Linked DNA regions of Homo sapiens: region 2 is linked to region 1. Evidence: fine-mapped expression QTL. A gene starts in region 1. The other region holds a variant in brackets. All regions are shown on one strand. Distances are between the middles of the regions. Region 1 holds the start of HSPA12A (heat shock protein family A (Hsp70) member 12A). Region 2 holds the start of LOC105378498 (a long non-coding RNA gene).

What was found. PIP is the estimated chance that this variant, and not a neighbour inherited with it, causes the effect.
Region 2: its variant is the best candidate, but not a certain one, in a credible set for the expression of HSPA12A in gastroesophageal junction (GTEx, PIP 0.79).

The regions. Positions count from the first base shown.
Region 1 is chr10:116,740,205-116,744,582 of GRCh38, reverse strand. HSPA12A (heat shock protein family A (Hsp70) member 12A) reads left to right here and starts at 2,017. Exons shown (of 12, transcript NM_025015.3): 1 at 2,017-2,153. The coding sequence starts at 2,114. RefSeq lists enhancers at 744-1,447, 1,448-2,152 and a silencer at 1,703-2,152.
Region 2 is chr10:116,770,542-116,774,919 of GRCh38, reverse strand. LOC105378498 (a long non-coding RNA gene) reads left to right here and starts at 920. Exons shown (of 3, transcript XR_946339.2): 1 at 920-1,368; 2 at 2,401-2,554. It also overlaps a transcript of HSPA12A not described here. RefSeq lists an enhancer at 1-44. The variant C/T (reference allele first, on the strand shown) is at 2,060.

The DNA.
Region 1 (4,378 bases):
TCTCTGCCCCCAGCACTGGGGCCTGCATGTCACCTCCCATCCTTCTCACGCACCCTCATGTCACTGTGGCTGGGAGTCCCATGAGGGCACGTGGCGCCCAAGGCCCTTCCACAGCAGGAGGCAGATGTGCAGGGGCTACGGGTTTCTGCTGCTTCTGACAGGCTGTCAAGGCCAATGTCCTGATGCCCTGGTCTGATGGGGAGGAACGAGTGCCTTGAGGACACTGAGGAGGGCCCCCCTGGCCAGCATGGGTATGCAGGGGAGCCTTCCTGGAGTTGGGCAGTCCATGATGAGAAGGAGAAGTTCTTAGGTTGCTGGTGGTGGTGAAATGAGAGGACGGGTGATCCAGGCATCAAGCACATTTTCATGTCTTTGAAATACCAGCATAAGAGAAGCAGGGGTGGGTGAGAGGGATTGAAGAATCAGAGCGGCTGTAGCTGGAGCTGGAGTAGGGTGGGGACAGACCAGATCACAAAGCATGGACTGAAGGGGTGAGACAGGAGGGCGGGGGAGCTGTGGGCAGGCTGTCGCAGGCACGTAGGCAGGAAGGGCCCTCGGGGGCCATCAGTGACTTAATGATTTTTACCATGTGCTAGATCCCAAGCTAAGCATGTTACATGCATAGTCTATCTAATCTTCAGTTTTATGAAGTGGGTTCTCCTGTTATACCCATTTCGCAGATGAGAATATTGAGGCTCAGATAGGTTAAATAACTTGACTGTGGTTTCATGCACAGCCAGGAACTGTCCATTTGGGATTTTTAATGCAGGCAGACAGAAGACAAGTTTTGTGTTTTGAACTTGTCACTCTGCCATCACCTTCTGGTCTCCAGGCTCTCGCAGCAGCTCTCTGCCCATTCCGTCATCCATAACGCTCTCGCAGCAGCTCTCTGCCCACTCCGTCATCCAGAACGGGATTGTACGATGAAGCCTCCCCTAGGTGATCTTTGGGAAATGCCACCCATCTCTGGAAGTGAGGGATGCTGGTGGTTACAGCTGGGTGGGAATCCCAGCTCCGCGACTCACCTGCTGGGTGTGATATTGTAACCCTGCCGATCCTCAGCTTCCTTATCTGCAAAATGTTAGTTATGGGGAGGAAAGGAGATAGAGGTAAAGCACCAGGCAGGTAGCACAGTGCCAGGCACCCGGAAACGACCCAGTGACGGTGCTCCTCGGATTCCTATTACTGCCCTCGTTTGCCAAGGCAGGGTGGTGACACCGCGGACCCAGGGGGTGCCTGGCCAGGCCCAAACAGGTGCCAGCGGCGCGTGTGTGTGGAGGAGCTGGGGACAGGGAGTATGAATCATTCACAACTGAAGCCTTGCATTATTAATATCGTTATTCTCAGACTTCTAAGGAGGGCCCAGCTGGATCCCATATATGGAAGGCGCGACTCAGCCTCCGGGGCAAGCACCTCCCTGGGTCCGGAGTTGCCATGGAGTCCCGCAGGCGGCCTGGAGGCGGTGCCCCGGGCTCGGCCCCCGCGCAGGTCCTTGGTCTGCGGCCTGGGTCCTGCCCGCGCCGGGGTCCACCCAGCCCGCCTTTGCGCCGGCCCAGGGCCGCTCCCCTGGGACCCTGGGGGACAGACAGAAGCTGGTGGGGACTGGCGCGGGCGTCCTCGGGAGAGCGCCGGGCGCGCTGGGCTTGCTGAAGGGCTCCAGGCCTGGCCATTCGGTGACTTCCAAAGAGGGGACGCGCCGCGGGGCCCCGAGGGCCTGAAATCCGCTCCCGCAGCGCAGCCCCGGGCGCGCCACTACCCCCGCCGCGGTCGACTGCGGGGCGACCGCTCGGTCCCGAAGCCGGGAGAGGAGAGGCCGGGCCTCGGCGGGCCGCTCTGGGCGGGCGGGGAGCGCAGCTCCGGAGCCAGGCAGTTCCCCGCGCCCGCCTTCCCCGACCTTTCCCGGCCGGCCCGAGCTCGGAGGGGCGGGGCGCCGGGCGGGCCGGGGCGGGGCCCGGGGAGGAGCCGTGGCTGCGGCGGCTGCCGCGTCAGAGCAGCGCTCCCGCTGCCCGGCGGCTCAGACACGGCCCGAGCGCCGCCGCGGACGCGGACAGAGACCCGCACGGGCACGGGCGCTGCGCTGGAGGCTCCCCTCGCGGTCCGGGGCTGCGCGACCATGGCGGACAAGGAGGCCGGCGGCAGCGACGGGCCCCGAGGTGAGCGCAGGCTGCGGGTCCTGCGGCCGCGGCTGGCGGGGCAGGGAGGGAGGAGGCGCGCTTGGCCCAACGCTCCGCACCCCCTCGCGCGCCGTGGAAAAGTGGGGACGCCCGCGCTGCATCCAGTTCTGGCGGGCGGGGCCGGGGTCAGCAGCAGCGGGGCCGGGGGCCGGGGTCCGGTGGACCGGAGACGGCCCGCGGGTCACATGTTCTGCGCCCCGCCAGGGTGCGGACTCCGCGGCGGGGACTGCAGCCCCCGCTGAGGCGCCTGGTTGGTCCCTGCCTCGGGTGGCGCCTCCTGCGGGGCTGGTCGCGCGTGCGGGTGAGGACCGCCCCGCGTGTGCAGCCCCCGCGCGATGGGCTGCGGAGGCCGGCGCTGGCTGGGTAAAGGGCCCGCCGCCGGGTGGCCGGGTGGCCCCAGCGGGTAATTTTCGTGACTCAGCGAGGCAGGAGTGGGAGCCTGGGGGAAATCGGAGATTTGGACCTGTTCCCTCGCCCCATCCCACCCCGGCCGGACGCTCGAGCCAGGAGTGGGGGCTGCAGCTGCGGCCGAAGGGCTTCTCACCCACCTCCCCGCCCATCCCCAGGGACTCACTGGGCTGGGGAAGGGTGAAGCGGCGGGGGTTCGATGGTCCCTTCCTTGCGGGGGGCAGGGGGAGGCACCCAGTGCGGAGGACAGACGCTCGCATTTTGCAGATGTGCTAGGGCCGCTTTCTTTGGGGAGCGTGATTAGGGCTCCGAAGGGTGGGGGAGCCGGAGAGGACGGGGAAGGGGGTTGCGGGAAGAGGACGAGCAGGTTTCGGAGCCCAGGGCTGTAAATCAAGGCTTCTCCCACGGAGGGCCCGGCTGGCCAGGATTCCAGTCTTCCTGTGGGTCCCAAGTGGGGAAAGTTGGGCGCATGGAGGCGCCGCGCGTCCCTGACCTGCAGGGCCTCGGCGAGAGCGGCCGCCGGGGAGAGGAGCGCGGCCCAGGCATCTTTCCCGGGAGCGACAGGCAAGCCGCCTGCGAGGATGATATTAAAATGCCGGGACGCAAGGGAGATTCAGCCACGAAACGAGCGCTTGGCTCTGCGGGGCCCCAAAAGCTGGAGAAACTGAGTCCAGTGGCAGCACAGCCACCATCTGCGCTGGGTTCCCTGTCTTGCTGTCGGGCCTGCGGCCCCCACCCTCTGCTGCACTCCAAGCCGCACCTGCCCCCACCCCAGCCCATTGTTCCTGCGGATCAGGGAGGTGCCTCCCCACGCGGCACTGCAGTGGTGGGGGAGTGCAGGGTGGCGGGTGGGGGATCCTGACAGGGCTCACTCCAGGGAGAGGCAGCGGAGAGCCCAGGCCGTCCCCAAACACACACCCAGTCCCCGCCTGTACTCTTCCTCAGCTGGTGAACGCAGGCAATGGACTGGCAGCTGTCTTTGTCTGAACATCACTCAGCAACTGGATTGACTCTTTTTTTTTTTTTTTTTTTTTTTTTTACTTTTTTCCTTTAAGTCAGAAAATAAAAAAATTTTTAGGACGATAAGTAGGGGCGTTGAATTGCTAAAGCCTGAGAATTACTGAGCCAGTTTCTTGCCTCTCATGCTGGGATAGGGTGGGCGATGATACCAAATACAAGGTTGGGCATAGGATTTGTCAAATCAGAAGTGGGCAGGAATGTGTACCCACTCCCCACACCTTTCCCAACACTGTTTTGTCTTGTAAATCAAATTCAGCACCCCTATCCTAACACACACACACACGCACACACACACACACACACAGACACACACACACACACACACACACACACACACACACACGGTGCTGGGAGAAATCCTGTCCAGGATGGGGACACCCATACCTGGTGTGCCGAGCCACCTGCCACCGCTCTTCTGCGTTTGTTCTGGAGTATTTGTTTCTTCACTTCCAGTCATCTCCAGCTCAAGGTGGCCAGTGAGAATTCCAGGTGCATGGACTTAGGACAGAGACCAACCTGAAGAGCGGGCTGTCCCTGGCAGCTCACTGTGCCTCTGGGCACCTCTCCCTTTATCTGTAAAATGGAGGATGTGAATAGTATTGCATAGGAGCAGAGTTGGCTTGCCCCTGGCCCCTACACTTATTTCTAAGGTTTCCTCATTGCTGGGAAAAGAGCGTGCATTATTTTATTGTTTTAAAGGCTCACAACAAACCTGTTACCAGCATTCTCCCCTTCCTGGGTGGGAAATCCAAACACAGGTTGAGTGACCTATCCAA
Region 2 (4,378 bases), 30 kb before region 1:
GCCAGCTGGACCTATGCCATGGCAGTATAGCCAACACGAGGGGCTGGTGCAGGAGCCGGCAGGACTGGGGCCTGCAGGGGCCAGGGTGGAGGGCTCCAGGCTTGTGCAGCCTGCAGGGTCAGGGTGGAGTCAGGCCAGGGCCACGTGGGCAGGCATGGGACTGGGGGAGGAGCTTATTCAATGGTGGACCTGGGTTTTCTGGTGGGTGAATGAAGGGGTGCACAGAAGGCCTCCCTCTCAATGTCCCACTCTCCAATCCTTTCTCCTAAGAGATGGATCTGGGCCATGAACTCCTGCTCCAAAAGGCCAGTCCTCTAGCAGAGCCACGTCTGTGAAGAGACCCAAGAGCACCATTGACATTTCTTTATTCCAGGGGTTCTCACACTTTGGCAAGAGTGTGAGATGTGCAGTTGCTGGGCCCTACCCAGAGTCTCTGGGTCAGTAGATCTGCCTTGGGGCCTGAGAATTTGCATTTCTATTAAGTGCCCAAGAGTTGTTAATGCTGCTGGTCAGGGACCACACTGGTCAGGGACTGAACTAGGCATTGGTGCAGTATCACCTGGGACCCTCGCAGAGTGCTCTATGGCAAATATTTCAAAAAAGCCCTTGCCGGCCGGGCGCGGTGGCTCACGCCTGTAATCCCAGCACTTTGGGAGGCCGAGGCGGGCGGATCACGAGGTCAGGAGATCGAGACCATCCCGGCTAAAACGGTGAAACCCCGTCTCTACTAAAAATACAAAAAATTAGCCGGGCGTAGTGGCGGGCGCCTGTAGTCCCAGCTACTTGGGAGGCTGAGGCAGGAGAATGGCGTGAACCCGGGAGGCGGAGCTTGCAGTGAGCAGAGATCCCGCCACTGCACTCCAGCCTGGGGGACAGAGCGAGACTCCGTCTCAAAAAAAAAAAAAGCCCTTGCCACAGAGCAGGTTCCCCCACCCCATGTCATAGTGAATGCCACTCAAGACCAAAGAGGGTAAGTAACCTACCCAAGGTCATTCAGCTGAATGGTGGCATAGTTATCATTTGTAATTAGGTCTCCTGGCTCCAAGTCCTCCACCCCGTCACCATGATAATGACCATTGTCAGCATCATCACCATCATCGTCATCATCATTACCACAGGCACTGTGAGCTCCCTGTGGGCTGTTTTGCAGCTTTGCCCCTGCCCAGGACCAGGGACCAGCCAGAGCTTCATAATTGTCAGCTGAGTGGAATCCCTTCTTGGGGCAAGTCAGTGAGAAAGACTTTCTCAGGCTGCAGTTGACAACCCTTGGCTGAGGCCCCCACTGTGAGCTGGGCAGGTTGGCCAGGGAATAAGGAGGAGGAGACTGCTTACTTAGCATCAGTCAAGGTTGAGGGGCCATGGGCCAAGGTGAGGTTCAGAGGTGACAGAAGGGAGGCAGAACTGCTCCCTGGTCATGTTACCTTCTCGAAACCCGCTGGGAGCTGCGAAGGCAATTGTCACTCTCCAGTCTGGCTTTGAGTGACGCACAGCTCCCAGGCCTCCTGTCCTGTCTGCCCGCTAGGCTGTTGTTGCCTGGGGGTACCAGACCAGAGCTGAGGGTTCTGAGAAGGAAATGCAATTTGCTGTTGGTGTACCAGGCCTTCTTCTGTGCTACCATGTACTGCTCAGTGGACTGAAGCCTTTGCTCATTAGCAGGGCCTCATCCCAGGCCAGTTCATCCTGGGCCTCTGGAGGGGCTGGGGAAATGCCTGGGCCCACCTGGGCCTGCTCTTGCCTCCCTGGGACCTTGCCTGCTGTGCAGAGGAAAAGGAGTGGGAGGAAGGAGGGCCCAGGGGGAGTCAACGGGAGCAGCTGGGGCTGCAGTTGTTTGGAAGTCCCCTGGCTCACCCAGACTTTTAGTCTAGCTAGGGTCCCCGGTCCTGACTGAATGAGCCCCTTCTCAGAAGAACCACAGGTGGCCAGGTGCAGTGGCTCATGCCTGTTAATACCAGCACTTTGGGAGGCCAAGGTGGGAGAATTGCTTGAGACTAGGAGTTCAAGACCAGCCTAGGCAGCATAGTGAGACTCTGTCTTTACAAATAATAATAATAATAATAAT[C/T]AGCCAGATGTGGTGGTGTGTGCCTGCAGTCCCAGCTACTTAGGAGCCTAAGTTGGGAGGATCGCTTGAGCCCAGGAGGTTGAGGCTGCAGTGAGCCGTGATCACACCACTGCACTCCAGCCTAGGCAATAGAGAGGGAGACCCTGTCTCCAAATAAATAAATAAATAAATAAACAAATAAATAAAATAAAGATAGAAAGGAAAAGAAAAAGAAGAACCACAGGCTTTCCTAGAGCAGAGATAGGGCCCAGGGATAAAACTTGGAACTTTGGAGCCAGACAGCTTCGGGCCTCATTTGCTCTCGTGCCTTCAAGTTGTGATTTAACTTCTCTGGGTCTCAGTTTCAGCATCTGCAAAAGGGCTGTTACAAATATTCCCTGAAAGCATCTTCCTGGAGACAGAGCTCTGAGTTTGGGCCTGGCATGCAGCTCCACAGAGTCTGCTCAGCATTTTCTGCCAGCAGAGCCAGCCCTGCTGGTCCCAGGAGCAAGTGGGGTAGAGTCTGAGATCCTCTTCTTCTGCCAAGTGTTGGGGCTCTGGGGCTCTGGGGGTCTGTCCTGGGATCTCCTCTCTTCACCTGTACACAGGATCCAAGATCAGCTCCTCCACTCAATGGCTTCACAGTACCCCCTGCCCCAGCACTGATGATCCCTGAACCCACGTGATCCAGCCTTATCTGGACATCTCCACTTGCATGTCCCAGAGACACCCAGGTCATTTAGTGTCCCAAGGCGGGAACACCATCATCCTCGCCACTACCCCCGCTCCCGTCCTGTGCTGTCATCTCAGGGAATGGCCTGGCATCCAGCCTCGTCCTGCCTCTGCCCTCTCCCATGTTAAGCTTATTGAGTGTAGCTCACCTGGAAATGTGGAGATGGGAAATACGGTGGGGACTGTTCAGGTGTGGCCGTGGCTGAGACAGCACAGCTGCTGGAGCAGCCTGCCTGGACTGGAGTTGGCATCAATATAGGCCCCAGAGGATGCCACCTCCCCACCGCCCCCAGCAGTTCTCCCAACTCCATGCTTCTGGAACCCAAGGCACCTTGGGGGTGCACTCTCACCATTGTCCCCTTTTCTGCCTTTCTATCTGGGCCCCTTGTAGGTTGACAAGCAAGCGCCCCTTGTTTGGGAGAGAAACCTCCATCCACTGCAGAGAGAAACTGCAGGGACTGCCTCTCATCCACCCCGTCCCTGGGCTCCTGGTAAACATGCTGGCAGGCAGGGATTTCCCATGATGGAATTTCGCAATTGCCGTCCCATCCTTTTGGATGTATTCATTCCGGAAACATCCTCCCGGGGGCCCTCTGTCTAGGCCCTGGAAATGATTCAGACCCAGGCTCTGCCCTGGCCTCTTTCGTTGCTTAAAATATTCCAGTGGCTTCTCTTCCTTCCTCAGTTCCCATTTCAGCTCCCGGAGGAGGGTGACCCTTCACCCAGGCCTGTCACTGGCTTTGCTGGTGGGCTCACCCCTAGGTTTTCAGTTTTGGCCTCTGGCCCCAGTATCTCGTCAGGGCCCCTGTCCTCCCCTCCCCTCTGTGTGGCCTCCACAGCCAGCGGCTGCTGATGGCCCCAGCTCCCAGCGAGTGTCCTTGTTTTATCTCGCCTGTGAATGTGCCTCTTCAGAGCGTGTCACTGGGGCAGCCCAGTCAGGCCCTATGTTGGAGGCAAAATGGGCAGGGCCTTTGAACCGTGGACTTGGGGCATCTCTGGGTTGCTCTGAGCCTGCGCCCACCTCTGTCTCCATCTACAGACTCGGGAGCCACAGTCCAGGGTTTGCAAACTGAGGCCCCTTGAGCACACTTGAGAATGCCCCACCCCAACCCTGCAGTCCACTGCCCCCTCCCCCAGCACACACAGCCCACAGCCCCACTCCAACCCTGCAGTCCACTGCCCCCTCCCCCAGCACACACAGCCCGCAGCAGCCAAAAGAAGTCATTCTTCCTTTTAAAAGTAAAAATCTCCCCCAAGAGAGGCTTGTTAAGTGACCCGAAGGCATCCTTAGAAAAGGCTTTCAGGCATTTGAGGCTTCCATGTTTAAAGCAAATTCACAGAAAGTTGAGGTTGGTGAGGGGAGGCTGGGCCCCTTGTTTCCAAGAGCAGAGGGCTGTCCCGAGCACCTGGGGAGGGGCTTATGGGAACAGTGCACAGGAGGTTGGAGGAGAGATGGTGGGGACAACCCGGCAGCCATGGACCTTTATGAAGAGCAGACTCTAGCACTCCAGCTGGAGCTCGGCGTCTCTGCCACTGGCCTCCTACCACCTTGCCTCAGTCCTCCCTCACCCCCACCCCACCTTGCTGCCTCATGGGTCCATTTCCTGC